Linked DNA regions of Homo sapiens. The protein of the gene in region 1 purifies or fractionates together with the protein of each later gene. This does not show direct contact. Each region holds a gene or a part of one and is shown in the gene's direction. Other genes may lie near its edges.

Region 1 (3,500 bases):
TGTTAAAAATTATCAATGTTTGGGAAATAAAACATACATACAGGTAGAGTTATGCCATGTTGAAGGAGAGAAATAACCAAATCTAGGGCTGAGCACAGTGGCTCATGCCTGTAATCCTAGCACTTTGAGAGGCCGAGATGGGAGGACCGCTTGAGGCCAGGAGTTCAGCCTGGTCAACACAGCAAGCCCTTAGCGCAAAAAAAAAAAAAAAAAGAAAAGAAAAGAAAGGAAAAAAAAGATGTGAGATAAGTAACCAAATATTACAGTTAATTCTTCCCAAGCTAGTTAACTGTTTGGGAACTGCTTTGTGCAGTTCTAGTTATGTTTCCATAGACTTTCTTTTTTTTTTTTCCTTCTTTTTTTGAGATGGAGTCTCGCTCTGTTGCCCAGGCTGGAGTGCAGTGGCACCATCTCGGCTCACTGCAAGCTCCGCCTCCCGGGTTCAAGTGATTCTTCTGTCTCAGCCTCCCGAGTAGCTGGGACTACAGGTGCCCGCCACCACGTCCGGCTAATTTTTTGTATTTTTAGTAGAGACGGGGTTTCACCTTGGTAGCCAGGATGGGTTCAATCTCCTGACCTCGTTTCCTGCCTGCCTTGGCTCCCCACAATGCTGGGATTATAGGTGTGAGCCACCACCCCTGGCCTGTTTCCATAGACTTTCTAGGGGAATGTCTTCTGTATTCATCAATAGGTTATTAAAAAAAAATTCCAAGAAATACCTGCCAAATACTTTATAACTGGAAAAAGACAAAGAACAATGTTCACTGTTAAAAAACTTTGTCATTTACAAATGAAAATAAAACAATTGCTCATGATCCCATTATTCTATGATAACCATTTGCTACTATTTTGCCATGTATTTTCTGCTCTTTTATTTTTCTATCTATAAATATATACATAAAACAATCTCAAATATGTATTTTTGCATTTTTTCTTCTATGACCGGATTATTATTTTCTTTATCATTTGTATTTCATCAGTCATAAATTTTAAGGCCATCTGAGTATGTCATAAGTTTTCACCCAGATAACTTTGATATATACAGACATCTCTGGTTGTATCTCTCATTTCCTAAGGCAAAATCACCAAAAGTGGAATTGCTGTTTATGGAGAGGGACATTTTTAAGGCCCTATCTTGTCTTGCTTCTTGAAGTTGTCACCTCCTTTCTGAAAAGGTTGTCAGGTACTATAGCCAGGCTAAGATGAAGAGTGTCAGGCTTAAAAGATCATCATGATTAACTGGAGAGGAATGGATTTCACATGGAAGGAAGAACAAAAGCAAAGGTCTAAGCCAAGTGCAGTGGCTTACACCTGTAATCCCAGCACTTTGGGAGGCCGAGGCGGGTGGATCACCTGAGGTCAGGAGTTCAAGACCAGCCTGGCCAACATGGCGAAACCCCATCTTTACTAAAAATTCAAAAATTAGCCAGGTGTGGTGGCAGGCCCCTGTAATCCCAGCTACTCAGGGGGCTGAGGCAGGAGAATCATTTGAACCCAGGAGACCAAGGTTGCAGTGAGCCAAGGTCGTGCCATTGCACTCCAGCTGGGCAACAAGAGCAAAACTCCATTTCAAAAAAAGAAAAAAAAAAAAAGTAAAGGTCTAGACTGTAGAAGTAGGAAAGAGTGTTTGGGGCAGCTAGGTGGATTACTTACCTGGAGCTTTGAAACATGGAATGATATGGTTTGGGGCTGAACGACAGAGGGTGCTTGGACTATTTGGTGGTGAGCAGGAGAGTAAGGAACGATTTGGAGTCAGAGCATGACAATATTCAGCTGAGCTATAGGAAAATTGGTCTGGTCTACCATGAAGTCAGTGGGTTGGCAAGGGGAGAACCTAGGGGCTGGGTCCCTCCTTAGGTAGATATTGTTGTCTGGGTCAGCTGTAGGTGAAACTCAACAGTTGGAATGAGACTCTTCTATAGGGGAAGGGTAGAGACATTTGGGAACCAGCATCCAGAATGCTTAACAGCTGACCGATATGAAGGAGAACCTGAAAGATGACACCTACATTAAAAGGATGAGCTGGTTTTAGAGATTTTGAGTTGGAAGGGCCGGCTGCTCACCCAGAAGAGAATGTTGGTACAAGAAGATAGGTTTGAGGGTTGTTTGGGGGTAGGGTTGCCAGATGAAAAATATTTACCATGCCCAGCTGACTTTTAATTGCAGATAAAAATTGAATAACTTTTTAGTGTAAATACGTCCCAAATATTGCATGGGACATATTTCTACTAAAAACATATTCATTGTTTATGTGAAATTCAAATCTATCTGAGCATCTTGTATTTTTATTTACTAAATCTGGTAGCCCTACTTGGGAATCAACATGCAGAGAAGCCTGGGGGAAGAATCCAAACTAATGTGATTGACGTAAAGACTCAGAGCCACACTTGGGGAAGCCGAGGCGGGCGGGATCACCTGAAATCAGGAGTTCGAGATCAGCCTGGACAACATGGTGAAACCTCATCTCTACTGAAAATACAAACATTAGCTGGGTGTGGTGGCAGGTGCCTGTAATCCCAGCTACTTGGGAGGCTGAGGCAGGAGAATCACTTGAACCCATAGGTGGAGATTGCAGTGAGCTGAGATCATGCCATTGCACTCTAGCCTGGGCAACAAGAGTGAAACACTGTCTTAAAAAAAAAAAAAAAAAGACTCAGAACCAGCATTTCAGTTAATTAAATCTTGCATTTTTGCTTTGTCTCATCCTAAAATCTCCTTTATTTTTAGTTTTATTTTTTTGAGACAGAGTCTCACTGTGTCACCCAGGCTGGAGTACAGTGGTGCAATCTCTCCTCACTGCAACCTCTACCTCCCGGGTTCAAGCGATTCTCCTGCCTCAGTCTCCCAAGTAGCTGGGGTTTCAGATGTGCACCACCACGCCCAGCTAATTTTTGTATTTGTAGTATAGGCAGGGTTTCACTATATTGGCTTGGCTGGTGTCGAACTCCTGACTTAAAGTGATCCATCCGCCTCGGCCTCCCAAATTGTTGGGATTACAGGCATGAGCCACTGCACCTGGCCTCTAAAGTCTCCTTTAAATCTCAAGGGAAAATTAAAAGAAAGAAAGGAAAAAAAAAAAAAAAAAAAAAAAAAAGCCCAGACTGCCTGATTTGATTGGCAGTGGTAAGGATTGTCCTGGTCCTCAGTCTTATTAAAACCAGTCCCTTTGGCAGGCATGAACAGAGAACAGACCTGTGTGGGACGAGACTGGAGACTTGGCTCTGCAGTCTAAGAGTGGGTCCCACGGCCATCACGTGCTGTGTGCATGTGCATGTGTGGACACACAGACAAGTGATTTGCTTACACCCAGATGCCCACATGCTCACACATGTATAGCAAAAGTCCCTGGAGAGATGCTGAAGGAACTGCTAAAAGTGGCTGTCCCCTGAGAAGGGGTACCACGGGATGAAGGCCAGGTAGAAGGAAGACTTCATTATCATCCTTTTCTTATTGAATTATTGTTTTTTAGTATGTGCATATATTACTCTTTGCAATAAACT
Region 2 (3,500 bases), on another chromosome or scaffold:
ACCCTGAGTGGACACAGCACATGTTTCAGAGAGCACGGGGTTGGGGGTAAGGCCGTAGATTAACAGCATCCCAAGGCAGAATTTTTCTTAGTACAGAACAAAATGGAGTCTCCTATGTCTACTTCTTTCTACACAGACACAGCAACAATCTGATCTCTCTTTCCTTTCCCATTTCCCCCTTTTCTATTCGACAAAACCGCCATCGTCATCATGGCCCGTTCTCAATGAGCTGCTGGGTACACCTCCCAGACGGGGTGGCGGCCAGGCAGAGGCGCTCCTCACATCCCAGACGGGGCGTCGGGGCAGAGGCGCTCCCCACATCTCAGACGATGAGCAGCCGGGCAGAGACGCTCCTCACTTCCTAGACGGGATGGCGGCTGGGAAGAGGCGCTCCTCACTTCCCAGACTGGGCGGCCAGGCAGAGATGCTCCTCACTTCCCAGACGGGGTGGCGGCCGGGCAGAGGCTGCAATCTCGGCACTTTGGGAGGCCAAGGCAGGCGGCTGGGAGGTGGAGGTTGTAGCGAGCCGAGATCACGCCACTGCACTCCAGCCTGGGCACCATTGAGCACTGAGTGAGCGAGACTCCGTCTGCAATCCCGGCACCTCGGGAGGCCCAGGCGGGCAGATCACTCGCGGTCAGGAGCTGGAGACCAGCCCGGCCAACACGGCGAAACCCCGTCTCCACCAAAAAATACAAAAACCAGTCAGGCATGGCGGTGCGTGCCTGCAATCCCAGGCACTCAGCAGGCTGAGGCAGGAGAATCAGGCAGGGAGGTTGCCGTGAGCCGAGATGGCGGCAGCACAGTCCAGCCTCAGCTCGGCATCAGAGGGAGACTGAGAGGGGGGAGGGGGAGGGGGAGGGAGAGGGAGAGGTCTTTTTTTTTCCCACTCCCCCGCTCTTGTTGCCCGGGCTGGAGTGCAATGGCGCAATCTTGGCTCACTGCAACCTCCGCCTCCCAGGTTCAAGCGATTCTCCTGCCTCAGCCTCCCAAGTAGCTGGGATTATAGGCGCCCGCCACCATGACAAGCTAATTTTTGTATTTTTTTTAGTATAGACGGGGTTTTCACCACGTTGGCCAGGCTGGTCTTAATCTCCTGACCTCAGGTGATCGGCCTGCCTCAGCCTCCCAAAGTGCTAGGATTACAGGCGTGAGCCACTGCACCTGGCCCATCATTTTACTTTTTTAATCCAAGTTCTAACCTAGGATAACACACATTGTCATGGCAACTTTTTCATTTTTTAAGACATGTCTTGCTCTCTTGCCCAGACTGTATTGCAGTGGTGCAGTCATGGCTCACTGCAGCCTTCACCTCCCAGGTTCAAGTGATCCTCCCACCTCAGTCTCCCAAGTAGCTGGGACTGTAGGTATGCACCACCATGCTTAAGTAATTTTTAATTTTTTGTAGAGATTGACTAATTTTTAATTTTTTGTAGAAATGGAGTCTCACCATGTTGCCTAGGCTAGTTTCTAACTCCTGGCCTCAAGTGATCATCCCACCTCAGCCTCCCAAAGTGTTGGGATTACAGACGTGAGCCTCCTAGCCCAGGCAACTTACTTTTTCATGACATCGACAGTTTTAAAGATTACAGACCAGTGTTGTCACCCCTCACCTTGGATTCGTTTGTTTCTTTTTCTTGTTTTGTTTTGAGACAGAGTCTTGCTCTGTCACCCAGGCTGGAGTGCAGTGGCGTGATCGCAGCTCACTGCAACCTCTGCCTCCCAGGTTCAAGTGATTCTCCTGCCTCAGCCTCCCAAGTAGCTGGTATTACAGGCACCCACCACCACGCCTGGCTAATTTTTGTATTTTAGTAGAGATGGGGTTTCACCATGTTGGTCAGGCTGGTCTGGAACTCTTGACCTCAAGTGATCCACCCTCCTTGGCCTCCCAAAATGCTGGGATTACAGGCGTGAGCCACTGCACCCAGGCTGTTTGTTTCTTAATGACTAGAATCAGGGTAAACGTTTTCTTAGACATTGTTTTTCAACACAAAAGATAAAATTGTGAGTGCACCACTGTGCATCTTGCTTTATCTACTGAACAATGCCTCTTTGAGAACCTTCCCTATCAGTACACAAAGAGCTTCCTCATTCCTTTACACAGTTGCATAGTATTCCATTGAACGGACTTAACATATTTAAATAGCCCCCTGGGGGAGGACAGTTAGGTGGTTTCCAGTCCTTGGGGATTTCAAACGATGCTTCCGGAAATAACCTTATAAATGCAGTTTTTCTTATGTGATAATATATCTACAGTGTACGTCCCTAGATGTGGAATTGAGCCTCCAAACTTTTATGTTTATAATTGAGGTGGCATTTACATGGCGTGCCATGCCCAGGTCTCCAGTGTACAGTCAGCTGTATAGTGTGTTTTATCACCCCAGAAACCCCCTCATACCCTTCCCAGTCTCTCCTACCCTAGGAGCAGCCACTAGTCTGATTTCTAGCGCTGTAGATCACTTTAGTGTATTCTACAACTTTGTCTAAATGGTATTGTACAATTTTTATGGAGGTAAAATTAGCCATTTTAAAGCAAACAATGGCTGGGCGTGGTGGTTCATACCTGTAATCCCAGCACTTTGGGGAGGCCAAGGCAGGCAGATCACTTGAGCCCAGGGGTTTCAGACCAGCCTCAGCAACATGGCAAAACCCGTCTTTACCAAAAAACAATTGGCTAGGCATGGTGGCACGCATCTGTCTTCATAACTACTCAGGAGGCCAAGGTGGGAGGATCACCTGAGCCCGGGAGGTCAAGGCTGCAGTGAGCTGAGATCATGCCACTGCACTCTAGCCTGGGCAACAGAGTGAGATCCTGTCTCAATAAAGAGAGAAAGTAATAATAAAGCAAAGAATTCAGTTGGTACGTTCACAGTGTTGTACAACCATTACCTCTGTCTAGTTTCAAAACATTTCATCACCCCTACAGAAAACCCCATACTCCGTAAGCAGTCACTCCTCATTCCCCCAGTGTGCACTTTGCCTTCTGCACAGCCTGCTTTCAAGATTCATCCGTGTTGCATGTCTGTCAGGAGCTGGCCCCTCTCTAATGCTGAGTGTCTGTTATGAACCTCCCTGAACATTTCTAACATATACTCCATCAGTTCAGAATTTTTCCATGCTTATTTCAGGTCTAAGCTGTTGTACCAAGGAGCCCCCAAAACACAGTGGCCCAAGAAAGATACAAATTGATTTCTCCACATAACGCTTTGGAAGATAGGCAAGTGTGCAGGGTTGGCAGACAGCTTTGCTCTGGAAGGTTGTTGGGGAGCCCAGTGTTGTCCCTGTCCTTGTGGTTGGCTCTCCCACTACATCCATGTTCCAGCCACTGTGACGGGGAAGAGGGTGGGAGGATGTCCCAGTAGCTGCACACCTCATGATCACTCTCATTCCTGGAGGGAGAACTTAGTCACGTGGCCCTCCTGGCAGCGCACACTGGGAAATGTAGCCTTTGGCTGGGCAGCCTGTGGCCACTCCGGACACGCAGGGTTGGAGGGGTGTGT
Region 3 (3,500 bases), on another chromosome or scaffold:
TTCATATCCTGATTTGTTTTTCTGGTTCCTTTGTGTTGCTTTTCTGTTTTCTTCTATCTCACTTAGCTTTTATAAGATCATTATTTTTAATCATTTTCCAGGATTTCATAAATTTATTTTGATTGGAATCTGTTGCTGGATAATTATTGTATTTTTTGGAGGTGTCATATTTCCTTCCTTTTTCATGTTTCTTGTATTCTTACCTTGATACCACACATCTGGTATAATAGTCAATTATTCTGGTTTTTTGGATTTGCTTTCATTGGTTGAGTAGGGCACTTTGGCTTTGATTCTGGGTACATGTGGTAGTGTAATTTCTGTATGATATCTTTCGTTATAAATAGTGTGAGTAGGGTCCGTGATTTCCTCGTTGGCTTAGGTGCAATTGTTAGTGGAGGCTGAGGTGAAGTTTGGCTGGGACAGGGATGCCAGGTGGACCATTCCTTGGGCCCTAGCAGTGGTAGTAACGGGCTTACAGTACCTGTCCTTAGACCACAGGGTGGCACATTGACACCTTGTGTTAGCAGGTCCAGTTGGGCTGATCCTTGGAACTCCAGGTGGCTTGCTTGGGTGCTGGTAGTGGCAGTGGTAAGCTGGGCAGGTGGGCAGGTTCTCAGGCTCCTGGGCAGTGGATGTCACTTGGGCAATGGCAGTAGCAGTGGCAGGACACCCTCTGGTTCCCTAGTGATTCACGCTGGTGTTGGCAGTGACTGCAATGGGCTGGGTGAGTCAGTCCCCAGGCCTACCGGTGGTGCATGCAGGAGGGTGCCAGCTGTAGTGATAGTAGCAGGTTGGGTGGACCCAACCTCAGGCCTCCAGGAGGAGTGTTCAGGTGACAACAGTGTTGGACTGGGCTGGGTCATCCCCACGTCCCTGAATAGCATGCTCGGAAACTGGGGAGGAGGTAAGCTGGGCCAGATGGACCTGTCCTCAGGCCCCTTGGTGGTGTGTGTAGGCATTGGCTATCATGGCAGGGGCAGGATGATCCCAGGCCACCAGCAGAGTGCTCAGGTAAGGACATCAGTGGTTGCACTGTGGCCTTCTTACTGGGGAGGGCAAGGTTGCTCTTGGTGGCAGCAGCCATAGGGAGGGAGCTGGGAAATGTGCGCTTTAGCCCCAGACAGCGGCTGTGGATGGGGTAGCCTGTCCTCAGGTCCCTTATAAATGCTTAGCAGCTCAGCTGCTGAGGAAATTAGGGTCGCTGCCAGTGGCTAGCACTTTGTCCCCAGCGGTGGAAGCCCACAGTGGCAGCAGTCTGTTGGGGAGTCTGTCCTTGGGGCATGTAAAAATGTGTGCAGCTCCTCTGCTGGGAGGAGGTATGGTCACTGCCAATGGCTTGCACTTCAGCCTTAGCAGCCGCAACCAGCATTAGTGATGACTGGGAAGGGAGGTATGTCAGTGGGGCTCAACAGGATGTAGTCTGTTGGGGGTTGGGCTCTCAAAATAGTGCTGTGCTGTAGCTACTTAGAACTCAGGGGGTGTACAGATTCAGCATAAGCTCCCTCTCCGGAGCAGCATTGTCATGTGGTCTCCACATACCTCCCTGTGTTAGTCTCAGAGCCCACGATGGTCCAGGGGTTCTCCCATGGCTAGGATTGCAGGAGTCCATGGTGGGAATGTGGACCCCTGGGGGTCTCTCACTTACTCTTTCCCTGCATTGGAGAGCCTTTGCAGGTTGCTTTACTTCCTTCTTCCTTACTTGAGGTGTTTCCTGTCACTTTTCTGTTGAATTCCAGTGTTCTCTCTTAGATGATCTATGTGAAGTGTGATTATTACCTCATTATTTTGGTTTTTCCTTGTAGAGGAGGTGAGTACCAGATGCCTCTATTCAGCCATCTTGAAGCCCCTCTCTCAACATATTTGACCAACTATTTAACATTCAGGTGCTCAGTCTATTATTTGCAGTCTGGTCCTTGAGCAAGACATTTGATTTATATGGACTTGAATAAAGGAATATATGTTCAGAAAGCACTTGGAGATTTTATGAAATTATCTGTGGTGGTTTGTTTTTCTATAGTGAATTCAAAATGAAAATAGAGATGATGTTTACAAAAAGATATCACTTAATTTATTTCATTGAAGAAATGTCAAATATGGAAAACTACTCTTAGTTAAATAATATTAATTGGCAAAATATTACATTTTAGGATTGTCAGGCTTAGACAGCTCCAAGTGTAAAAATAAAGTTCATTCAGTAAACTAATTTATTCAGAATGCCTTTGTTTTCTAAAAGCTATATATATTCATACATATACAGTTATATAGCAGATTTGCCAGTGTATTTCAATAGGGGAAATTACAAGCAGGGTCATGCATGGGATGTGTTTATGTAGCAGGCCTAGATCTGGCCCCCATCAGTCTTTCCTTCCCCACCTTACACACTATTTTTTTGGTCTGAACTCAGTCCTATGGCCACACCTACCTGCAAGGGACTCTTGGAAACATAGTGTGTGTGTACTGTTTACTCTTTGATGATGATGACTTGGTAGTTTCATTTTCAAAATCAGAGGAATAAACATTAAATAAATAATGATACATACCATTGTTACCAATAGACTCTGTTGTAGAGCACAAAATTCCCCTTTAATCTGTATACACTTACAAAGACAACCTACATTCTAATTTTACTTTTGTTTTCTTTTCTAGCTAATCACATGACAAAAGGGAAGAATTATGGTTTAGGGAAAAAGAATGGGACTTGAAGGTCAGACAGCCCGTATTTGAACCCTGACTTCATCATTTTCTGGCTCTGTGACTTTTCTTTTAAGTTATTTAACCTTCCTGGAAACCACTGTTCTCTCTCTTATAAAATAGAGATGAGTATCATTGCATTGTTTTGAGGATCAAATATAAAGTGGGTAGCACAATATCTGGAACATAGCATAGGGACTCAGTGGAAACTTTGGTAATATTTTCTGAATGTTTTAAATTTAAAATATATGATCTTTCTTTTACAGGAACACCAGATGCATTTTCACAATTACTCACCTGTCCATATTGTGATAGAGGCTATAAACGCTTTACCTCTCTGAAAGAACACATTAAATATCGTCATGAAAAGAATGAAGATAACTTTAGTTGCTCCCTGTGCAGTTACACCTTTGCATACAGAACCCAACTTGAACGTCACATGACATCACATAAATCAGGAAGAGATCAAGTAAGTGCAATGACTGAGAGTTCACTAACTTTCCAGATTTTGACAACTCAGCCCTCAATGGAAGGCAAGGATTTTAATATATTTGAAAGTTAAAAGAATGTACTAAACAGTGCTATATCTGCAGCCTTATAAAAGTGAAAATGATTATTTATTTGAGTTATCTGGTCATTCCTGAGATTAAAAACCACATATGAACGTTACTTTAGAGGTAACTCAGTATTTTGTTCAGGTAAGACCCTTTCCATCTTGACTTAATTATTTTGCTTATGCCATAACAGTTAATTCTTCAAGTTTAGAAGATGTTAAATTGCATTCTATTAAAATGTTCAGTGTAGGAAAA
Region 4 (3,500 bases), on another chromosome or scaffold:
TTGAGAGCAGATGCATGGGTAACTTTTCTTTTTTCCCCAGTAGGTGTCCCGTCATTTTGTGAAGTAGACTTCTCCAGGTTGTAAAGCAGAAACTTCTTTTTGAGGTTCAGATACAGTGACTCTGTGGCATTCTCAAGGTCTCTAGACATGGAGCATCCCAGAGCTCTGGCAAAGAAGCCAGAGCTGACCTGAACACCAGCTTTTCTATGGCTCAGTGTTTGGTGACTTTAGGAACACTGGGCATAAATTGTACTGTTTTCTGCTGATATTTCCATCTTCCCAAATTGTGACTTCATTATACATTGCTTTGCAGAAAACTTGCTTTATTTGACGAATGGAATTCCTTGGCTGTTTATGTTTCAATGGATAACACAGTGGTCATTGAAGATATCAGTGAGTTACCAGCCTGTTTAACTTCCCAGCTGATGGGTGATGAGTTCCTCCCTCACCATTCAGTATTCTGGGGCTCAAGAGAGTCTCTCTGGTCTTCCCCACCAGGGCAGGGGAGCTTAGGGGAGCACAGGGCTCTGATTCTCTTTCTTTTCAGCTTTCTGAGAGGGAGAACACCATTAGAGGGGCCTTGCTCCTCCTCAGTGAGGTACCACACTCCTTCCCTGCAGAAAACACAAAGTGTGTATAATAATTTATTCAACCACCAACAGATCTTTCATGGAGGCTCACCCTTGTCCAGGCGTGTGATTCCTGCACTGAGGAGTGAGAGCAACCTAAAGATACAGTCCCTGTCTCAAAGGCCCTGGCAGACTTGAGAAATGAGATTCTTCCAATAAGCCCAGAATCCCTATTGGGAGCTAAACAAGTACCCAGTGGCCAGAATGAAGAGCATGAGCCCTAGAGGAATGGCCTGGGCTTTGTGCAGGCGGGGAGTCAGCTGAGCCCTGGTGGCAGAGGAGAGGGCCTTCTAGGCAGGGTGGGGGGCATGTGAGGTTCCCCTTAGTTTTGATATTGGAATATCTTCTAGGGCTGAAGACTCCTTACTTATCCAATATTCTGTTCTTCCATTTCTAGAAAAAATGTGCCGTGTCCTTCCCTTGAGTGCTGACACAGCTGGTGACAGGCCTCCCGATTCTTTAACTGCTTCAAACCAGAGTAAGGGCACCTCTGCCTACTGCTCAGCCTGGAAACCCCTGCTGCTCATTGTGCCCCTTCGCCTGGGCATAAACCAAATCAATCCTGTCTATGTTGATGCATTCAAAGTAAGTCACTTCTTTCCCTGAGCCCATTGCTGCCTGCCCATCACACCGCCATCTCAGCACAGAGATCCGTGAGCAGCAGTCCACAAGTGAGTTGAGAATCTTGCATTGTCTTTCTCTCCAGGAGTGTTTTAAGATGCCACAGTCTTTAGGGGCATTAGGAGGAAAACCAAATAACGCGTATTATTTCATAGGATTCTTAGGTAAGAAAGGAGGAATCACAAGTAAGTCATCGTGGGCTAGGGGAGGGCGTGGGGACAAGGTTTGCATGGGAGACCAGGCAATTCCAGTTAGTGGGTTCCCGTCTAGCCCAGGAATGCCGTGGCCTCTGGTCAGCTCCTTCTGTCTCCGGCCTAACTGATGGAGAGTGATGTTTCTGTGTGCCTGATGGAAAGCAGGTCCAATTTCAATGCCTTCCTTGCTTCTTGATAAGATGGTTCCATTGCTTTCCCACTGGATAGCCCCAAGGTCATAGCATTGCTCCAGCATGTCTCTCTCCTGCCTGTGGGGCCCAGGGTGGTGGAATTTCAATCCCTTGGCTTTGCCAATATCTCTCTTATTAGGGCCTGCTGGCTCATTGTTCAGAGCTGTGACAGGTTGGGAATTGGAGGAGGCAAAGACAGAAGTACCCCTTTCCCGAGAATGGGGGCTAAGCCTTAAAACCACTAACCTCTTAATGTGGACCCGAGCAAGCAACCCAACATTCCCTGCATAGGAAGGCACCTCTGGAAACCCAGTCTCTTTACTCACTAGCTGTGACCAGAGACATCTGAGGTCCTTGGTACACAAGGTAAGCTAGCCTAGTGCTTCTGAAGCTTTAGCATGCACATGAATCACCTTGAGAGCCTATTGGAGTGCAGGTTCAGTAGGTCTTGGGTGCGGCCTGAGTTTCTGCATTTCTAACTAGGTGGTGCTGATGCTGCTGGTCCACAGACCACACTTTGCATACCCAGGGCCTAAACACCTGGTTAGTGTTGAAGAGCATAAGTTAGAGAGTGATGTGGCCAGGAAAAGTTGGTACAGGACACCTGTTGCAGGGGTGGAATGGTCTGAGACTTGGCCTCAGGAAAGTTATGAGGTCAGATTGGTTGACAGACAAAGGAGAGCTACAGGAGTTACAAGGGAATGGCATGAGGGCACGTGCAAAGGACAGGGTGGAGATGGCCTTAGTTATCCTCCCCAACACATCTCCTCTTGGACATTCAGGGAGGTGAGGTGGGATGGGAACAGACACACGTGGCTTTGCATGCCAATCCCCCACTTGCTAGCTGTGTGACTTCAGGAAAAAGATATCAATATTCAGTCTCAGGTTCCTTTTATGTAAAATAGGGCTAATGCCTGACTCGCCCTGTTGTCATCTTACAGTAAAGTGTTCATCAAAGAGCCAGGCATATAGGACAGTCACTGAAAGGTGGCTGCACCTTGCTTTACCCCAATACCTATTTCCTTTGCCAGCCCCTTCTTCCTCTCTTTAGGTTGGGGGGTGTGGAGCGGGGCGTGGGGATTGCACAGCTGCCTCTGCTCTCTCTAATGCTGCCATCTATTGGTTGAGCCCAAGAATTACAGCTAAATGGAAAACGTGGAGCCTGTAAAGGCTTTTATTTTTCTAAGTATAAAACCTAGTGTTTGGAGTTCTGCAAAATCAGATGCCCTCTGTTCCTAAGCATTTGGGTTCAAAGAAAATGTTGCAAAAAATAGATTTCCAGTTGCTCATGCATGACTTAGTCTCTTCAGGCGGCTATAACAGAATAGTATAGACTAGGTGGCTTTATAAACAACAGAAATTTATGTCTCACTGTTCTGGAGGCTGGAGGTCCAAGATCCAGGCACTGGCAGATTTGGTGTCTGGTGAGAGCCCACTTCCAGGTTCATAGATGGCTGTTTTCTTGCTGCGTCCTCAAATGGTAGAAGAGGCAAAGGAGCTTTCTGGAGTCTCTTTTATGAGGGCACTAATACATTCATAGGGGCTCCACCCTCATGACTAAATCACCTCCCAAAGACCCCACTTCCTAATACCATCATACTGGGGGTTAGGATTTCAACATATGAATTTTAGGGAGACATAAACATTCAGTCCACAACAGTGTTTGAGGACAGCTTTGAAACAGATTAGAAAATAACTTTGGAGGAATCTCAGTGAATAGTGTGTGTGATTCCTGGGTGCCCTGGCCTCCCTATCCCAAGTTACCTACAGAGAATTTCTCCAAGTTGATGTAGCCCTCCTGTTTCTTGAGGCCACTGGGTCAGAGTAGCTTTTGTGAAGTTTGACTACTCATTAAAAAGATGTGG
Region 5 (3,500 bases), about 73 Mb from region 1:
GATCGCACCACTGCACTCTAGCCTGGGCAGTAGAGCGAGACTCAGTCTCAAAAAAGAGGAAAAAAAAACCACTGCAAACTTGGATGAGGCTGGGAAAGATCGTCAAATAATCAACACCTTTATCCCCCTCTTGCTTCACCAGAACCTACTTTCTGTCCTCAAAATGTCCGACCTACTAGCCGGCTGTGGTGGCTCACGCCTCTAATCCCGGCACTTTGGGAGGCCAAGGTGGGCGGATGACTTGAGGTCAGAGTTTGAGACCAGTCTGGCCAACACAGTGAAACCCTGCCTCTACTAAAAATACAAAAAAATTAGCCAGGCATGGTGGCGGGCACCAGTAATCCCAGCTACTCGGGAGGCTGAGGCAGGAGAATCGCTTGAACCTGGGAGGCGGAGCTTGCAGTGAGCCGAGATCGTGCCACTGCCCTCCAGCCTGGGTGACAGAGCGAGACTCCATCTCAAAAAAATAAAAAAGTTTGACCCTCTTTATGTGCCCTGAGACTGAGCAGTGGGTGTGTTGCCATTCTGTGTGTCATCTGTTTAGTTGCTGTCGTTTGATTTGACAGTCATGCTGCAAAGCTTGGAGCCCAGCTGGCCGATTTACACCTTGATAACAAGAAGCTTGGAGAGATGCGCCTGAAGGAGGCGGGCACAGTGGGTATGGCACTGCGCGGGCCACGGGTGCTCCCGCCTAGAGGAGGACGTTCAGCCGGTGTGGGCTCAGAGCGGGGGCCGTGCAGCAGCCGTGGGAGGGTCGGACGTGGGCTGATGGCAGAGCAAGGGAATGTCGGCCTTGAGCCGCATCTCACGGTGCACTGAACACAGTGACTGTGATGCGTCTGTTGTGTCCTAAATGCATTTGAAAGATGAAAACATTTGCTGGACACAAGACACCCCTAGTGTTACAGTTACTTTTACCTCTCGTTCCCCAGAAGAGTGTAAGCAGAGGCTCTCTGGCTGTCTGTAAAAGGCAAGACCTTTAACCCAGGGTCTGTTCCTGTAAAACAGTCATACTTGAGGCTCAGAATTACAGCCATCATGTCTGACCTTTCCAGAGCATAACGCGCTGTCAGGATCGAGGGAATTTTCCGGTATTTTAATCTGCTGACATTTGGAATCCGTGTGCAGCCCACATGGTAAATGTGGGGAGATTTGCTGATGATCGGAACAGATCACCAGGGGCCTGCTGTAGGAGACGGAGACATGCTGTTAGTCTGTTCTGTGAGGGTCCATGACGGATCCACCCAGGCGGCCTGTGTGGTGAGGATCCACTGAGAGGCCTCCCAGGTCGCCTGTCCTGTCTCTTCCAGTCTTAACGGAGTTTAGTCCATTGGGATTTTCCTTGAATTAGGGAGACTGCAGAGGAGTGAGATTCTTTCTTTCTTTCTTTCTTTTTTTTGAGACGGAGTTTCACTCTTGTCCCCCAGGCTGGAGGGCAGTGGTGCAATCTTGGCTCACCGTGACCTCTGCCTCCTGGGTTCAAGCGATTTTCCTGCCTCAGCCTCCTGAGTAGCTGGGATTACAGGTGCATGCCACTGTGCCCACCTAATTTTTGTATTTTTAGTAGAGACGGGGTTTCACCATGTAGGCCAGGCTGGTCTCAATCTCCTGACCTCAGGTGATCCACCCACCTCAGCCTCCCAAAGTGCTGGGATTACAGGCGTGAGCCACTGCACCCTGCCTGAGATTATTTCAAAGCACAATAGTTTATCTGACACACATGGCACCAGGTTTGCCACTGAGAGCCATCCTTTCTGATGGATTGGGGGCAGATTCTTTTTCCTCTTTATTTATTTATTTTTATTTTATTTTTTTGAGAAGGAGTCTTGCTTTGTTCCCCAGGCTGGAGTGCAGTGGCATGATCTCTGCTCACTGCAAGCTCCGCCTCCCGGGTCCACGCCATTCTCCTGCCTCAGCCTCCTAAGTAGCTGGGACTACAGGCGCCTGCCACCACGCCTGGCTAATTTTTTGTATTTTTAGTAGAGACAGGGTTTCACCGTGTTAGCCGGGATGGTCTCGACTTCCTGACCTCGTGATCCACCTGCCTCGGCCTCCCAAAGTGCTGGGATTACAGGCATGAGCTACTGGGCCTGGCCTGTTTTTTACTTTTTATGTTTTTTATGTTTTGTTTTGTTTTGTTTTTTTTGAAATGGAGTTTTGCTCTTGTTGCCCAGGCTGGAGTGCAGTGGCGCGATCTCAGCTCACCGCAACCTCCGCCTCCTGGGTTCAAGTGATTCTCCTGCCTCAGCCTTCTGAGTAGCTGGGATTACAGGCATGCGCCACCATGCCCAGCTAATTTTGTATTTGTAGTAGAGATGGGGTTTCTCCATGTTGGTCAGGCTGGTCTCAAATTCCCGACCTCAGGTGATCCACCTGCCTTGGCCTCCCAAAGTGCTGGGATTACAGGCATGAACCACTGTGCCCGGCCATTTTTATGGTTTTTTTTGAGACGGAGTTTCACTCTCGTTGCCCAGGCTGGAGTGCAATGGAGCGATCTCGGCTCACTGCAACCTCCGCCTCCCGGGTTCAAGTGATTCTCCTGCCTCAACCTCCCGAGTAGCTGGGATTATAGGCGCCTGCCACCATGCCTAGCTAATTTTTATATGTTCAGTAGAGACAGGGTTTCACCACGTTGGGCAGGCTGGTCTCGAACTGCTGACCTCCGGTGATCCGCCCACCTCAGCCTCCCAAAGTGCCTTTCCTCTTTAAGAACATCCTCCCCTTTGTTTCCTGACACAGTGTGGTCTTCCCCCACACCCCCGCGTGTTGGGATGTGAGACAGGTCCCCTGAGAGGTGCCCGCAGGCTGCCTGTCCTGTGTGTGTCCTCTGGTGCCCCTGCTCGGGAGCAGCTAGTGTCTTTGATGCTGACGTCTGCTGGAGGCCACAGGCTCCTAGTGTTTTTGATGCTGACATCTGCTGGAGCAGGCTCTGTTAGGGGTGTTGTGTGAGCTGGTGGAGACCCAGGCCCTGTTTGTCTCTGGCAGGGGCATAAGCTGGTAGGAGCTCGCTGAGGTCGTGTCTGAAGGTGACTCAGTTTCGAGAGTGGGCGCTGGGATCCCTTGGAACTAATTTCCTTTCTTTTACTTTTGCTTGCAAGGGAGAGGAGGTGGGCAGGAGGAACGGCCCTTTGTGGCCCGGTTTGGATTTGACGTGGTGACGTGCTGTGGATACCTCCCCCAGGTGAGTGCACGGCGTTTGCTTCTATTTCACAATCAGGTCAGCTGTTCAGACACACGGGTTGGGGGGACACACCCCCCTCCTTTTTTTGTGAGCTTCAGTAAAAGTATTTGCACCATTTTTTCTTTGCTGATGTTTGAGAGGTTGACGTAAGATTGACCCACCTAATATGCTAGGTAAGCATGAAGAAACTGAGGAGGACCAGCAAGTTAGGAGCTGGATTTCAAGGTGGGTAAAAATGAGGGAATTTAACAAATGTTTTAGGTATACTAAACTCTCAAAGAGGGTGGAATGACAAGGGTTTGTCACTTTTGGTTGTGTG
Region 6 (3,500 bases), on another chromosome or scaffold:
CTTTGAACAGAAGAAGCGTGAAGAAGAGGCACGACTCCTTGAAACTGGAACTGGCCCCTTACATGATGAGAAAGATGAATCCCTGTGTCTGTCTTCTTCCTGCGAAGGGGCTGCAGGCACCCCGAGGCCTGCTGGAGAACCGGCCTGGGTTACTCAGTTTGTGCAGAAGAAAGAAGAGAGGGACCTGGTGGACCGACTAAAGGTGAGACCTGGGGTATCCGGAAGTGGGAGTACTGGAGGAAACAGGGCTTCAGCGATTGTTCTGGGGCGATTCCGAGACTCAGGCAGTGCATGCTCCCCTGCCGTTGCCGTGCCTCTCAGCTCTTCCCTCAGCTCCTTGGGTCTATGGTGCTGCCGCTGTGCTGTCTTTTTTGAGCTGGAGGTCAGCAGGCCTTCTCCACATAAGGAACTGTTGGTGCCCATTTATTACTCACCTGGGAAAGGACCTGATCATTGCCATTGGCAGCATGGTTCAATGGCTGCAAATGGATCTGATGGAGAGCGTGTGGCTTTGGGAGGAGTGTGCCGCCTTCCGCAGTGAGCAGCGAGGCTGGGACCGGCAGGGATGAGGTCCCGGGAGGGGATGCGGCAGCCCTTGAGTGCTGGCCGGGGAAGGAGAGATGCCCCCAGTGAGGAGGCGCCGGGCTGAGTGGCCCAGACTCCTTAGGAGAGGCCTGGTTTTGGGCTTCCTTGGTGATTTTCCTTCATGTCTGCCTCCTGTAGGCGGAGCAGGCCAGGAGGAAGCAGCGAGAAGAACGCCTGCAGCAGCTGCAGCACAGGGTGCAGCTCAAGTATGCAGCCAAGCGCCTGGTGAGCCTCATTTCTTGGGGGGCAGGATTATGTCCAGGCAGGGTTGCTCTGCTTGGAGGCTCATGGGTGCGTGGTCAGGGCCTTGGTCTCCCCTCCGTGACCCTCACTGGCTATGTGCTCCCGTACAGAAGCTGGGCTGTGAGTGGTTGAGGCGTGGATCCTAGGAGTCGACCTCTCTCCAGCCAGGCAGCCAGGCCTATGTGAATGGGGCGTGGTGTGCTTTGTCTCTGGCATGTGGGGAGGTGGGTACTGGTGCTGAGACTTCTTCCTCCCTCACCACCTCCACTACCCCTGTCCAGAGGCAGGAAGAAGAAGAAAGAGAGAATCTCCTCCGCCTCAGCAGGGAGATGCTAGAGACAGGCCCGGAGGCTGAGCGGCTGGAGCAGCTGGAGTCTGGGGAGGAGGAGCTGGTCCTCGCCGAATACGAGAGTGATGAGGAGAAAAAGGTGGCGAGCAGGTGAGACAGAGGCGGTAGCACTACCCTGCCCCAGGCCAGGGGACACCCTTGAAGACAGCTCTTTCCCTCATGCCACAGATGCCATGAAGCACCTGGCAAGAGGCATGGTGGCCTCTGCCCTCTGCTCTAAGCCGGGTCCTTCCTAGGGTCCATGAGTGCCAGTGGCAGTGAGGACAGTCACCGGCCTGGCCTGTGTCCTCTCAGCTGTCCTCACGGCAGCTCAGGCAGGGCAGGAACATTTGTGTCTGCGCCTTATACACAAGGAGGCTGCAGCCCCACAAGGAGAGACTCCTTGGCTGAGGCCACAAGCCTCGGCAGTGGAGAGCTGGGCTAGAACTCAGCTGGCCTGGCTCTAGATCTCAGGCTCTGAGGCAGCTGACTGCACTGGGTAACCTGTGAGGTGCCAACCATCAAGGCGTCCTTAGCCTGAGCTTTCCTTCTCCCATAAAGCCTCTGTTGGTCCAGACTCAAGGTTTCCACTTGATGAGCCATGAGCTGCTGGGTGACTTAGCCCTGAGCAGGCCACCCAGGCCATTTCGGGCCCACAGGATCCCTGGTCACAGCCCTGTTCCCATTCACACTGGAACCTCACCACCATCCCTGAGTGTCTGCTCTGAGTATGGCACTGTCCAGATGCTGTGGACATAGAAGGGAAGAAGACATGGAGGGGACAGTTAATAGACATGAAAACAAATAGCACCTATGTGAAGTCAGCATGTTTGCCTACAAGGAAAACAAAATGGTGATGTGGATGGGGTGGGGGGCTGCACCTGATGATGAGTCCCGTGTGTCCTGTGACATCCTGGCCACCACATCTGTCGGAGGGTAACTGCAAGACCAGAGACCCTCCATGGATATTCCTGAAGGTTCATCCCCGGCCTTCACAGTCTGTCTGCAGGGCGCCTTCTGATGCCACCTCCAGCCGCCATCCACCAGACGCCAGCTTCCCCGCTGCCCTGAACTTCCTCCAGCGCACCAGGCCTTCCTCTGTCCTGTCTGAGGATTTGCTCATGCAACGTGCTGTGGCCAAACACCCTGCCCTCCTCCCTTGGCAGATGTCTTCCTCTCCTTTAAGGCCTGGCTCAGGTGTCGTCTTGGTGGCTTCGGGTGTCAGCTGCTCTGTTTTGCTCATGCACCTGCTTGTGCTTCTGTTGTTGCCTCCTCTCCCTGGCTGGGCTCGAGCTGCTTCAGGGCAGGAACCACGTCTTTATAGTTTGATGTTCCCAGAGCTGACCCAGTGTTTGGCATAGGGGTGTGCTCAATAAAATCGAGTTGACATGAATGAGCAGATGCTGCCTCGTTGCAGTCTGGTAGTGTAATTCCAGGCTGCGCATGTGAACTTCGACTTCTGCCCCTGCCCAGGGCAGAGACCACCGTGTTGCTTTATGCCTCGCTGGTGAGAGGGGGTCATAAACAGTTTGTGCTCCATGAACCCTTCCTGCCCGCCTCCGAGGTCATGTTTCTGCTCCCTCTCTTCTCCCTTAGAGCCCGTGGGGACAAGGCAGAGAACTTGAGTGGAGATGGAGGTGGTGAATATTAAAGGAACAAAGTGCTCCTTCAGGTCTGGGCAAGAGCCATGGATCCTGTAGGTCAGCTTCTGGGGCTTCCCATGCCCTCACGTTTCAGGAGATAACGTGAGCCTCGGAGGACCTGAGTTCTGAATAGAAAATTTTTGCTCTTCATTTCTTCACACACCCAGCCTCTCAGTGAGCTCCTGCTGGCTTTGTCCAGCATGCGACATAAGATTGAATCCAAGCCTTTTAAGATAGAGCCGCCTGCTCTTTAGTGACCATGAAGCCAAGCCTGTAATAATTACTCTTCTGATAGCCCAAGACAATTGTATTCTGTTTTGTTAGAAAGGAATTTCGAGGTGAACAAAAATGTTTTCTTTTTATGTGATGTTGCCATAGGTAGCGTGTGCCTGTCAGATGGTTTTGTGTTTTCTGAGGAGCATAGACTAGTAGAGCTAGCTCAGCTTCAGGCCATGGGATGCAGGGCTGGCTTCCCTGCCAACGCCTGGCGCTGATGGATTCTTCCCGCATTGCTGGGAAGGGCAGACTGAGGCACTGACACAAGAAGAGTTGTAGCTGGTCATAAGTGACAGCATCCTCTGTTCACTCGATTGGTCAGTTGTAGCTTCATCCAGGAGATGGTCATGGGGTTCCTGCTGCATACCAAGCTCTAGGTGAGGCCACGGGGACTCAGCAGAAACAAGGCCGACCTGGGTCCTCCC
Region 7 (4,277 bases), on another chromosome or scaffold:
AGGTCAGGCTCCCTTCTGTCCTCTCGGCTGCTGCCAGAGTGAGCTCTTACAGCTTCAGTTTCCTACTTAAATTCCGCCATGTGGATAAAAAGGTACAAACATGCATAGGTATGTCATGAATTAATTACGGTAAAATGATAATTGTAGAACAGAAGTGGTGGAGATATGGGTGTTCACCGCAATTCTTTCAACTTCTTTGTGCTTTGAATTTTTCATAAAATGAGGCTGTGCATGTTGGCTCACGCCTGTAATCCCAGCACTTTGGGAGGCCAAGGTGGGTGGATCACTTGAGGTCAGAAGTTCGAGACCAGCCTGGCCAACATAGTGAAACCCCATCTCTACTAAAAATACAAAAATTAGCTGGGCGTGGCAGTGAGTGCCCGTAATCCCAGCTACTTTGGAGGCTGAGGCAGGAGGATCGCTTGAACCCGGGAAGCGGAGGTTGCTGTGAGCTAAGATCACACCACTGCACTCCAGCCTGGGCGACAGAGCGAGGCTTTGTCTCAAAATAAAAATTATTTTTTCATGAAATGTTGAGGGAAATCTCCTGCAATGATTCTTTTGTCTTTTTTGATAAAATGCAGGCTTCTCTGCCAACACTCTCGTATCCTCTCCACACACATCATCCTAAATGGGGATGTACCCTTGCTGCTCCCAGTACCTGGAACAGGAACATTCTTCTCAGTGTTCTCCAGCCCTCTATGCCCTCTTACTGTTTTATTTTTTAGACAGGGTCTTGCTCTGTCATCCAGGCTGGAGTGCAGTGTCACCATCATGGCTCACTGCAGCCTCGACCTCCCAGGTTCAAGTGATTCTCCTGCCTCAGTCTCCTGAGTATCTGGGATTACAGGTATGCGCTACCATGCACGGCTAGCGAATTTTTTATGGAGACTGGGTCTCACCATATTGCCCAAGCTGGTCTTGAACTCCTGGGCTGAAGCAATCCTCCCGCCTTCTTTAAACTCATCTCATTGATGCCTTCTCCAGGAAGCCTGTGCTGTTCCCTCAGCAAGAGGCTTCTTACCTGATCCCCCACAGCCTCTCCTACAGCTCAGCAACGGTTTATGGAATGAAAGGCCTCTCTTGAAGCTTTGCAGGCACCTGCCTGCCTGAGGTGTTAGCAAATCTGCAGACCCGCCCTGAGGCCATGTGTCTAGTTACCCTGGTCTCTGAATCACAGATGAGCTCTCATTTCTTCCCACAAATAAACCCTGTGACCCTCCACCCTCTACTCAGAGAACCCGCCCTCAGGTAGTTCCCTGTTTGTGACATACACACACTTAGCCCTGAGGCTGGACTGACAGGCCGACCTGGCTGGTGGACTCCAGCCCAAGCCTGCCAGCTGCCTGCCGGGGTGGGGGCCTTGGCGGGAGAGGACGGGGCCGGGTGGGGAGGAAGGCGGGGCCTGAGGCTGTGCGAGGCGAGTCGGTGTGTCCCTGGCTGGGACGGAAGTTGCACCACAAGTACAATTAGTTTCAGTTTTGTTTCTTTTCCAGGCACCCAGCAACGGCGGCCTCCAGGCCTCAGGCCCCCTCACCATCCTAGAGGTCAAGATCAGCTCTGGCTAGGTAAGGGGTGGGGGGCGGCACAGCTATAGGAAGGACCGAGCGGAGGGAGTAGGGGGAGGGGAGTGGAGAGAGAGCGCGGGAGGAGGAGGAAGGGAAGGAAAGGGAGGGCGTGAAGAGGCACCCGGAAGGCAGGAGGAGAGGGCAGGAGGGAAACTGCACTCGCCTCCCTCCCGCTCCGTGGCCACAGGTCCCCGCAAGAAAGACCCCGTCCCACTCTCTGAGGTCTCCTCCCAGCTCCAGAAAAGGGGACATTCCACCTAGTCTGCCCAACAAGTAGGTCTCAGCCACTGTGCCAGGAGCTCGGGACTCCCTCCCTCCAGAGGTTTCTGGAATGCATTCAGCAGGAAAAGCTAAAAGAACAGGACTCCAGGAGATAAGCCAAGGCCAAGTCTATCAGAGGGTGAGCCAGCAGCGGGAAGGGGACCAGCCCTTCCCCTAGCGTTTTTTCTGCCCGCTCCAGAATCCGCTTTAGAAACTGTTAAATGCAGAAAGTGGGGCCTCCACCACCCGCGATGCTGCCCCAGGTCTAGCAGAAGACAGGTGTAAGGCCAGGCGGGTGCGGTGGCTCATGCCTGTAATCCTAATGCTTTGGGAAGGCCGAGACGGGAGGATAGCCTGAGGCCAGGAGTTGGAGACCAGCCTGGGCAACATAGCAAGACCCCATCTCTACAAAAAGTGATAATTTTTAAAAAATGGGCTGGCTGGGCCCCTGGGCATGGTGGCTCACGCCTATAATCCCAGCACTTTGGGAGACCGAGGAGGGCGGATCACCTGAGGTCAGGAGTTCAAGACCAGCCTGGCCAATAGGGCCAAACTCCATTTCTACTAAACATACAAAAATTAGCCGGGTGTGATGGTGCGCACCTGTAATCACAGCTACTCGGGAGGCTGAGGCAGGAGAATCACTTGAACCTGGCAGGTGGAGGTGGCAGTGAGCCAAGATCGCACCACTGCACTCCAGCCTGGGCAACAGAGTGAGACTCTGTCTCAAAAAAAAAAAAAAAAAAAAAAAAGGCTGGGCATGGTGGCACATGCCTGTACTCCCAACTACTCAAAAGACTTGAGTCTAGGAGTTTGAGGCTGCAGTGAACTACGATCACGCCACTGCACTCCAGCCTGGGTGACAGAGGGTGACCCTATTGCTAAAAACTAAAATAAAATAAAAAGAAGGCAGGTGTATGGGGCTTGGAGGATTAAAGCCCCCTAAGCTACTGCAAGATCCTACCCCAACTGGCAGGACCTAGGCATCTCTGCCCACTGGGATCCCCGTCTGTGTCCTTACTGCCTGCTCCTCGCACCCTGGCACCCTATACAGCAGGACCCCAGTACCTGTGCACACAGGAGGGCTTCCACCATGTTTGCCACAAGGCCTGTGGACTGGGGACACTGAGGATTCGATTATTAGCTAAGGCCAGGGACTCCTGGTCTTGTCAGTTCTCACAGGTCTGACCCAACAAGTAGCACTGACATTTTTACGTTTGCTGGATGTACACACGGAAGTGGAGGAGGAGGAGGAGAAGGAGGAGGGCAGCTCCTTAGCTCAAGAGCAAGTGGCCCAAGGCCTCAGAAGACTAGAAGGAAGTTCCTGGCCATTCAGGTGAGACCTCAGGTTCCTTCCCGGCCATTTGGGTCAGCCCCTAGCCCTGGGGATCCGTGGGGCTTGAGGACGGGCGGTAGAAGCTAGAGGGTGAGCTGGTGAAGGTGCCTTCTCAACTCTGATCCTGACGCCTCTGCCTGCAGCATGGTTTCCCACGGGTCCTCGCCCTCCCTCCTGGAGGCCCTGAGCAGCGACTTCCTGGCCTGTAAAATCTGCCTGGAGCAGCTGCGGGCACCCAAGACACTGCCCTGCCTGCATACCTACTGCCAAGACTGCCTGGCACAGCTGGCGGATGGCGGCCGCGTCCGCTGCCCCGAGTGCCGCGAGACAGTGCCTGTGCCGCCCGAGGGTGTGGCCTCCTTCAAGACCAACTTCTTCGTCAATGGGCTGCTGGACCTGGTGAAGGCCCGGGCCTGTGGAGACCTGCGTGCCGGGAAGCCAGCCTGTGCCCTGTGTCCCCTGGTGGGTGGCACCAGCACCGGGGGGCCGGCCACGGCCCGGTGCCTGGACTGTGCCGATGACTTGTGCCAGGCCTGTGCCGACGGGCACCGCTGCACCCGCCAGACCCACACCCACCGCGTGGTGGACCTGGTGGGCTACAGGGCCGGGTGGTATGATGAGGAGGCCCGGGAGCGCCAAGCGGCCCAGTGTCCCCAGCACCCCGGGGAGGCACTGCGCTTCCTGTGCCAGCCCTGCTCACAGTTGCTGTGCAGAGAGTGCCGCCTAGACCCCCACCTGGACCACCCCTGCCTGCCTCTGGCTGAAGCTGTGCGTGCCCGGAGGCCGGGCCTGGAGGGACTGCTGGCCGGTGTGGACAATAACCTGGTGGAGCTGGAGGCAGCGCGGAGGGTGGAGAAGGAGGCGCTAGCCCGGCTGCGGGAGCAGGCGGCCCGGGTGGGGACTCAGGTGGAGGAGGCGGCTGAGGGCGTCCTCCGGGCCCTGCTGGCCCAGAAGCAGGAGGTGCTGGGGCAGCTACGAGCCCACGTGGAGGCTGCCGAAGAAGCTGCTCGGGAGAGGCTGGCGGAGCTTGAGGGCCGGGAGCAGGTGGCCAGGGCCGCAGCCGCCTTCGCCCGCCGGGTACTCAGCCTGGGGCGAGAGGCCGAGATCCTCTC

The links.
Region 2: the proteins of USP43 (region 1) and POLD1 purify together in Homo sapiens (affinity purification with mass spectrometry; one large-scale study listed by BioGRID and IntAct). This does not show direct contact.
Region 3: the proteins of USP43 (region 1) and ZEB1 purify together in Homo sapiens (affinity purification with western blotting; one study listed by BioGRID). This does not show direct contact.
Region 4: the proteins of USP43 (region 1) and ATG4A purify together in Homo sapiens (affinity purification with mass spectrometry; one large-scale study listed by BioGRID and IntAct). This does not show direct contact.
Region 5: the proteins of USP43 (region 1) and FN3KRP purify together in Homo sapiens (affinity purification with mass spectrometry; one large-scale study listed by BioGRID and IntAct). This does not show direct contact.
Region 6: the proteins of USP43 (region 1) and DDX11 purify together in Homo sapiens (affinity purification with mass spectrometry; one large-scale study listed by BioGRID and IntAct). This does not show direct contact.
Region 7: the proteins of USP43 (region 1) and TRIM56 purify together in Homo sapiens (affinity purification with mass spectrometry; one large-scale study listed by BioGRID and IntAct). This does not show direct contact.

What each region holds. Positions count from the first base shown.
Region 1 is NC_000017.11:9,652,017-9,655,516, forward strand, and holds part of USP43 (ubiquitin carboxyl-terminal hydrolase 43), read left to right. Parts: intron 1-3,500. UniProt on the Homo sapiens protein: May recognize and hydrolyze the peptide bond at the C-terminal Gly of ubiquitin. Involved in the processing of poly-ubiquitin precursors as well as that of ubiquitinated proteins.
Region 2 is NC_000019.10:50,390,847-50,394,346, forward strand, and holds part of POLD1 (DNA polymerase delta catalytic subunit), read left to right. Parts: intron 1-3,500. UniProt on the Homo sapiens protein: As the catalytic component of the trimeric (Pol-delta3 complex) and tetrameric DNA polymerase delta complexes (Pol-delta4 complex), plays a crucial role in high fidelity genome replication, including in lagging strand synthesis, and repair.
Region 3 is NC_000010.11:31,507,716-31,511,215, forward strand, and holds part of ZEB1 (zinc finger E-box-binding homeobox 1), read left to right. Parts: intron 1-2,957; coding exon 2,958-3,160; intron 3,161-3,500. UniProt on the Homo sapiens protein: Acts as a transcriptional repressor. Inhibits interleukin-2 (IL-2) gene expression. Enhances or represses the promoter activity of the ATP1A1 gene depending on the quantity of cDNA and on the cell type.
Region 4 is NC_000023.11:108,136,778-108,140,277, forward strand, and holds part of ATG4A (cysteine protease ATG4A), read left to right. Parts: intron 1-313; coding exon 314-393; intron 394-1,026; coding exon 1,027-1,214; exon of another isoform or gene 1,215-1,300; intron 1,301-1,335; coding exon 1,336-1,414; intron 1,415-3,500. UniProt on the Homo sapiens protein: Cysteine protease that plays a key role in autophagy by mediating both proteolytic activation and delipidation of ATG8 family proteins.
Region 5 is NC_000017.11:82,719,706-82,723,205, forward strand, and holds part of FN3KRP (ketosamine-3-kinase), read left to right. Parts: intron 1-566; coding exon 567-658; intron 659-3,098; coding exon 3,099-3,181; intron 3,182-3,500.
Region 6 is NC_000012.12:31,083,860-31,087,359, forward strand, and holds part of DDX11 (ATP-dependent DNA helicase DDX11), read left to right. Parts: coding exon 1-202; intron 203-723; coding exon 724-810; intron 811-1,109; coding exon 1,110-1,267; intron 1,268-1,273; exon of another isoform or gene 1,274-2,353; intron 2,354-2,366; exon of another isoform or gene 2,367-3,452; intron 3,453-3,500. UniProt on the Homo sapiens protein: DNA-dependent ATPase and ATP-dependent DNA helicase that participates in various functions in genomic stability, including DNA replication, DNA repair and heterochromatin organization as well as in ribosomal RNA synthesis.
Region 7 is NC_000007.14:101,084,004-101,088,280, forward strand, and holds the start of TRIM56 (E3 ubiquitin-protein ligase TRIM56), read left to right. Parts: upstream 1-1,477; 5' UTR 1,478-1,568; intron 1,569-3,002; 5' UTR 3,003-3,165; intron 3,166-3,308; 5' UTR 3,309-3,309; coding exon 3,310-4,277.